Linked DNA regions of Homo sapiens: region 1 is linked to region 2. The links come from fine-mapping of genetic effects on gene expression. A gene starts in region 2. The other region holds a variant in brackets. All regions are shown on one strand. Distances are between the middles of the regions.

Region 1 (2,902 bases), 27 kb before region 2:
GGTCTGGGCGGGGTGTGACCTCGTATTGTCCCCCTAGGAGAGGGTGCCTGTGACCCATGTAGGAGAGGAAGCACAAAACTGGTTTTGGTGATCAGAATAGCAAACTGGGCCAGATGCTTACCACACATTTCCTCTTCCTGAGTCCACAGCTTCGACTGCATGGCCTGGGCCCGTGGCATCTACCCAGATGCCTTGGGACCAGCCCTCACCAATGATGTGTCATTTCAAGGCCATTCACAGTAACAGTGTCTCCTCCACTGTCTCCATCAACCTTGAAGGCTTATGGTGAAGATGGTAATACAACAGGATTGAAGGAGACTGGGTCCCTGAATGACTTTGTGGAACAGAGCACTATAGGCCAAAGGTAGTAGAATTAGGTATCTTGTTTTATGCTGCTTAAGTGAATTAATTAATTCTCTAGATTTATTCACCTAGTTATTCAACAAATTTTTATTGAGCACATCAGGGCTAGGGCATTGTGTCAGGATCAGAGATTTTGCAATGAACAAAACAGAAAACTCCATGTCCTCCAGGGGAGTTGATAATAAAATGTCAGATAAGCTCTGTGAAGAAAGGTAAAAGTAGGGTTAGGGGTAGAAAGTGCTGGGGGGATTGCTACTTAACATAGTGTGGCCAGGGGAAGCCATTCTGCTAAGGTGACAGCTGAGCAGAACGATGAGTGGAGGGGGCAGGAAGGAATGTGGAGGTCTGGGAGAAGAGCATTCCAAACAGGGATGGCAGGTGCAGAGGCCCTGAGGGGGCAGCATGCCTGGTAGGCCTGCTGGATATTTCTGAGAATGAAAAAGTCCATTCCCAGTTGTTTGCGTGGAGAACCTAACCCAGTTATAAACACAAAGTACTTGAGAGCTGGTTTAATATACAGCCAGCTTTCCAGCAGTGCAACTACTGTGTACATCAAGGGAAAACTGAACTTCGTTTTCCTTAAAACTTATCATCAGCTGGTCATCATTTTGACAAATTCTGTCAACAACAGCAGTGTCATTCCTGGCATCTGTATGGGTCACGTCTGAACAGACACACGCCCTGCAGCCCTGCAGGTACCAGCTGTATAACAAGAACTCCCTTCCACCCTGTGTCCTGGAAACAAGAAAGCCATAGACCGGAAGATCCCGATGGCTATCTCAAATGTGCTGGATGGAGTTGCCAGGGCCCACTGGCATGCCCTGTAAGCCTTTCCTTCCACGTTTGGTTCCTGCCCCTTGAAGACTCCATTTCTGAGTTTGTGTGTGTTTTACTTTCTAGTGTGTGTCCTCATCTTAATTTTTCTCTCTCTCTTCTGCCTTGAACTGAAGGTTCGCTTGGGTGTGGAGAGACAGGCCCCCAGCAGAGCAGCTTCCCGAGACATCCTCCGATCCAGGGCTTCCCAGCAGCCCGGCAAGGCAGGGCTGTGCCTTTCTGCTTCAGCTCACAAGCATGCCAGGCTCACTGGCAAGCTGCTGTCTGGTTGAGAGACTGCTCCTAAAGCCCTGCACAGCCCCTGTCCTCCTGGCCCTCTGGAAATTCCAC[CAA/C]CCCGTGTCCACATTTCATGCAAAAATGAGCTGGTTCTGTGAGCATGGCCCGGCCTGACTCGCTTAGTGGGCGGTAAGTGGTTTCCACTTCAACCTTGCACCTAATCACCGGGCTCCACACCAGGATGGACATTCATGAGCCGTGAAGTTTCCAGTAATAAATCCACAGATGCTTCCAGCACCTGCCTTTTCGCATCACCTCCACTCCCAGCCACCTGCCAGGCAACAGGTAACAGAGACCCAGTCACAGGAGGGCAGTGTGGGGGCAGGACTGCAGTCTCCCAAAGCCCATGCACAAAACCGACAGCGCCCTGGCAGGACAAGGAGGCTGACATTCAGATGTGGAGGAACAACGCATGACCCATTCCTGGTCATGGGGGCCACAGCTGGACTCAGCCTTGAGGCTTGGCCAGACTTAACACCGTGTATAAACCAGGACCTTTTTAGGTAGAGTAATGGAAACCAAACTCTAATGATCTTAGACAGTGCTATTAGTCTCCTGGAGCTGCCAGAACAAATTACCGCAACTTCAGTGTCTTGAAACAAGAGAAACTGATTCTCACAGTTCTGGAGACCAGAAGTCTGAAATGCAGGTGTTGCCAGGGCTGTAGTCTCTGGAGACTCTAGGGGAATCTGTGCCTACCTCCTCCAGCTTCCAGTGGCTCCTGACATTCCTTGGCTTGTGGCTGCATCACCCCAATCCCTATCTCTGTCTTCCCCTGGTCTTTTGCTCAAAATGTCTGTGTTTAGTTTCCCTGTAGACACCTCTGCATCACTCTCATGAGATGCAGAGGTGCGACATACAGGTGTTGAGAGCCCACTTAGATAATCCAGGATAAGCTCCTCTCAAGATCTGTAACTTGGCTGGGTGCAGTGTCTCACGCCTGTAATCCCAGCACTTTGGGAGGCCAAGGCGGGAGGTTCACTTGAGGTCAGGAGTTGGAGAACAGCCTGGGCACCATGGGGAGACCCTGTCTCTACTAAAAATAGCCAGGCGTGGTGGCACACACCTGTGGTCCCAGCTACTCAGGAGGCTGAGGTAGGAGGATTGCTTGAGCCTGGGAGTTTGAGGCTGCAGTGGGCTATGACTGCACCACTGAATTCCAGCTTGGGTGACAGAGTGAGACTGTCAAAAAAAAAAAAAAAAACATAAAACATAACTTAAATCACATCTCTTGCCACAGAAAGTAATACTCTTTTGCCTACATATAAGGTAATATTTACAGGATCCAGGGGTTAGGATGTGGACATATCTTTGGGACCACTGACAGCCATGAAGCAATCTCATAATTTTCAAATAGGTTCTGTCCTTTTTATCTTTCCAGTCTTTTGGAAAGCATATGCCTATATTTTCAATCCACAATTCTATTTTT
Region 2 (2,902 bases):
AGATGAGGGCCGAGAGGAGTCTGCCACCTTGGAAAGGAGGCTAGAGGGGCCAGTGCAGGGAGGGCTCTGAGTGGATGTGGGGGAGGGGAAGGAGGGGAGGTCTCTCAGCCCAGAGAGCACTTAACTGAGAGTAGAGAACCAAGCTTTGCTGCTCCTAGGCCTCTAAGGGTTTGGGGAAGAGGTAGGGTGGGCCCGGGCACAGGTGTGGTGTGGGTGCAGTGTGGTGTGTGGGTGCTGTCCACATGGCCTTGCGCGCACGTGCTGGCCACGGGCACCCTGACCCCAATGAGGGAGAGAGGGGCAGAGCTGGAGCTGGAGCTGGAGCTCCGGTGACCGGGTGAATGGGGGTGGAACCCGAGGGAGCCAGGCTGGTATTGGGCACATAGACGCCCCTCTCCCAGGGGTCCCATCACCTCCCCTGACCCCAGGATAGGGCTCAGAGGGGAGGGAGCAGTGGACCGCCTGGGGCCCTCCCCTGGGGCCAGAACAGACCAGGCCCCTGTACCTGTTTGGTCCCCACACAGTGCTGTGGAAGCCACCGCCCAGTCTGCATAGCACAGCCCAGCCCCGCATGCCCCCTCCCTGGTTGCCCTCCCTGTTCCCGGCCAGGCACTTGCTGTGCAGGACTGGCTAATCCTCCCACCCGCTTGCAGAGGTTGTTCCAGCCCCATCTTAACATCTTTGTTTGGAGGGGTTACCCCGAGGAGACAGCTGCAGTCTTCCCAGAGCACTGCTAAACAGACACCTTCTATCTGGAGAGGCCCTTCTCTATCTCACCAAACAAGGCAACAATATAAACAACATACACACTGCCCTGCTGCCCTGGGAGGAGGGACGAGGGGTGAGCAGGGTGGAGGCCACAGCTAGTTCTGCAGCCTGAGAGCAAAGCAGGGACTCTGGGGGACTCTTGGGCATGGGGGCTTCCTAGAGGACGGAGCCCCGCTGAGTCCTAAGGGGTGGAGGAGCAGGAGCGGGTCACACGGTGGCCTGCGGATGGAAGCTGGTTGTGAGAGCGAGAATCCAGGAAGAGGGGGCTACGGCTATGGGCTGGGGGCTGGGCTGCCCCCGAGGGGGAGGGAGCCATGCCCTCTGCTTTGCCAGCGGAGTGGCAGCCGGGCAGTGTGGGCAAGTCCGGGCCCGGGGCCAGCCCAAGCACACTTGAGCGTCCCTGGGCAGGTCCCACGGAGACCCCCCCAAAGAGTCCCCACGCCCTGACCTACTGGCCGTATGGTGCCGGGGCCGTGAGACCCTCCGCGCGCTGACCCGAGCTCTGAGCAGAACCCATCCCCGCCACCACCACCGCGCCTAGCCTGCCCCTCAGGGCGCACCCCGCCCGCGTCCTCACCTTGAAGCACCCCGGCGCCTGGCACTGGCCAGAGCAGCAGCAGTAGTAGCAGCAGCAGCAACGGGGTCCCCCGAGCTCTCCGGGGCCTCCAGCCCATAGCTGTGAGCTCCTCGGCCTCTAGGCAGCGGCTCGCAACTCCGGCTCCGCCCAGGCTGGATTGCGGCCGACCCGTGCCCGGTGCAGCCTCAGGCCGCCGCCTTCGGACCTTCCCGCCCCCACCTCCCACCGCCCGCCCTCGCTCCCGCCTCCCCTCCCCGCCAACCCCGCTCGGAGCCTGGCCAGGGGCCCCGACGGCGCGCGCCATGGGGGAGCCGGGTCGCCACTCCCGGACCGCCGCCCCTCGAGGGGGTGGAGCTGGGCGGAGGAGGGAATCCGTGCGGCCCCTCGGATGACCGGCCCGAGCCGTCCCTCCCCGTCGGTCTCAGAGGGCCTCTACTCCTGAGAGGAGGAGAGAACCGCTGGGAAGGTTCTTGGAGGACCGCGGCGTGGTGGGATGAGGCGGTGGGCAAAGGCCGCCTCTCGCTGCTGAAGTTGGCCCCAGGAGCGCGATCTTCCGTGGTCTCCTGGGGCCGATCTCTGTCCCCTCCTTGCTACCCGTCCTGCCCCGAGGGTGCCCTGGCGGAGGTTGAGTCGGGTCATCCACCTGCACTGGGTGCCCCCAAGGATAGGAAGGTTCAGGCAACCGGCTGCCGCTGTCTTGGGGGCTTCATTGCTGGGCAAAGGCGATGCAGCAGACGGAGACAACCTTTCTTCCCTGGCGGTGGCCAGAGGGCAGAATTGCATAAAAGCTGCAGACTCCCAGGCCTGGGAGACCCTTTCGGCCTCAGTAACATCTGTTTCATGTTTTAAACTTTTGTTTTCCTACTCGGTGCAAATTTGGATGAGATGTTAACTTTTTTTTTTTTTTTTTTTTTGAGATGGAGTCTCCCTCTGTCGCCAGGCTGGAGTGCAGCGGCGCGATCTTGGCTCACTGCAACCTCCGACTCCCTGGTTCAAGCGATTCTCCTGCCTCAGCCTCCCGAGTAGCTGGGACTACAGGCGCGCGCTACCACCCCCAGCTAACTTTTGTATTTTTAGCAGAGACGAGGTTTCACCATTTTGGCCAGGATGGTCTCAATCTCCTGATCTCGTGATCCACCCGCCTCGGCCTCTCAAAGCGCTGGGATTACAGGCATGAGCCACCGCGCCCGGCCGGAGATGTTAACTTTTAAGCAAATCTTTTTTTTTTTTTTTTTTTTTTGAGACAGAGTTTCTCTCTTGTTACCCAGACTGGAGTGCAATGGCATGATCTGGGCTCACTGCAACCTCTGCCTCCCAGATTCAAGTGATTCTTCTGCCTCAGCCTCCCGAGTAGCTGGGATTACAGGCATTCGCCACCACGCCTGGCTAATTTTGTATTTTTAGTAGAGATGGGGTTTCTCCATGTTGGTCAGGCTGGTCTCGAACTCCCGACCTCAGGTGATCTGCCCGCCTCGGCCTCCCAAAGCGCTGGAATTACAGGCGTGAGACACCGCACCCAGCCTACTTTTAAGTAAATCTATTTGTTTTTGAGAATTT

What was found. PIP is the estimated chance that this variant, and not a neighbour inherited with it, causes the effect.
Region 1: its variant is fine-mapped to the expression of ADAM33 in thyroid (GTEx, PIP above 0.99).

What each region holds. Positions count from the first base shown.
Region 1 is chr20:3,653,396-3,656,297 of GRCh38, forward strand. No RefSeq gene overlaps it. Among named protein-coding and RNA genes, the nearest start is that of GFRA4, 8.6 kb to the right of the region's middle. The variant CAA/C (reference allele first, on the strand shown) is at 1,528.
Region 2 is chr20:3,680,563-3,683,464 of GRCh38, forward strand. It overlaps ADAM33 (ADAM metallopeptidase domain 33), which reads right to left and starts at 1,448. Exons shown (of 22, transcript NM_025220.5): 1 at 1,346-1,448. The coding sequence starts at 1,442. RefSeq lists an enhancer at 873-1,766.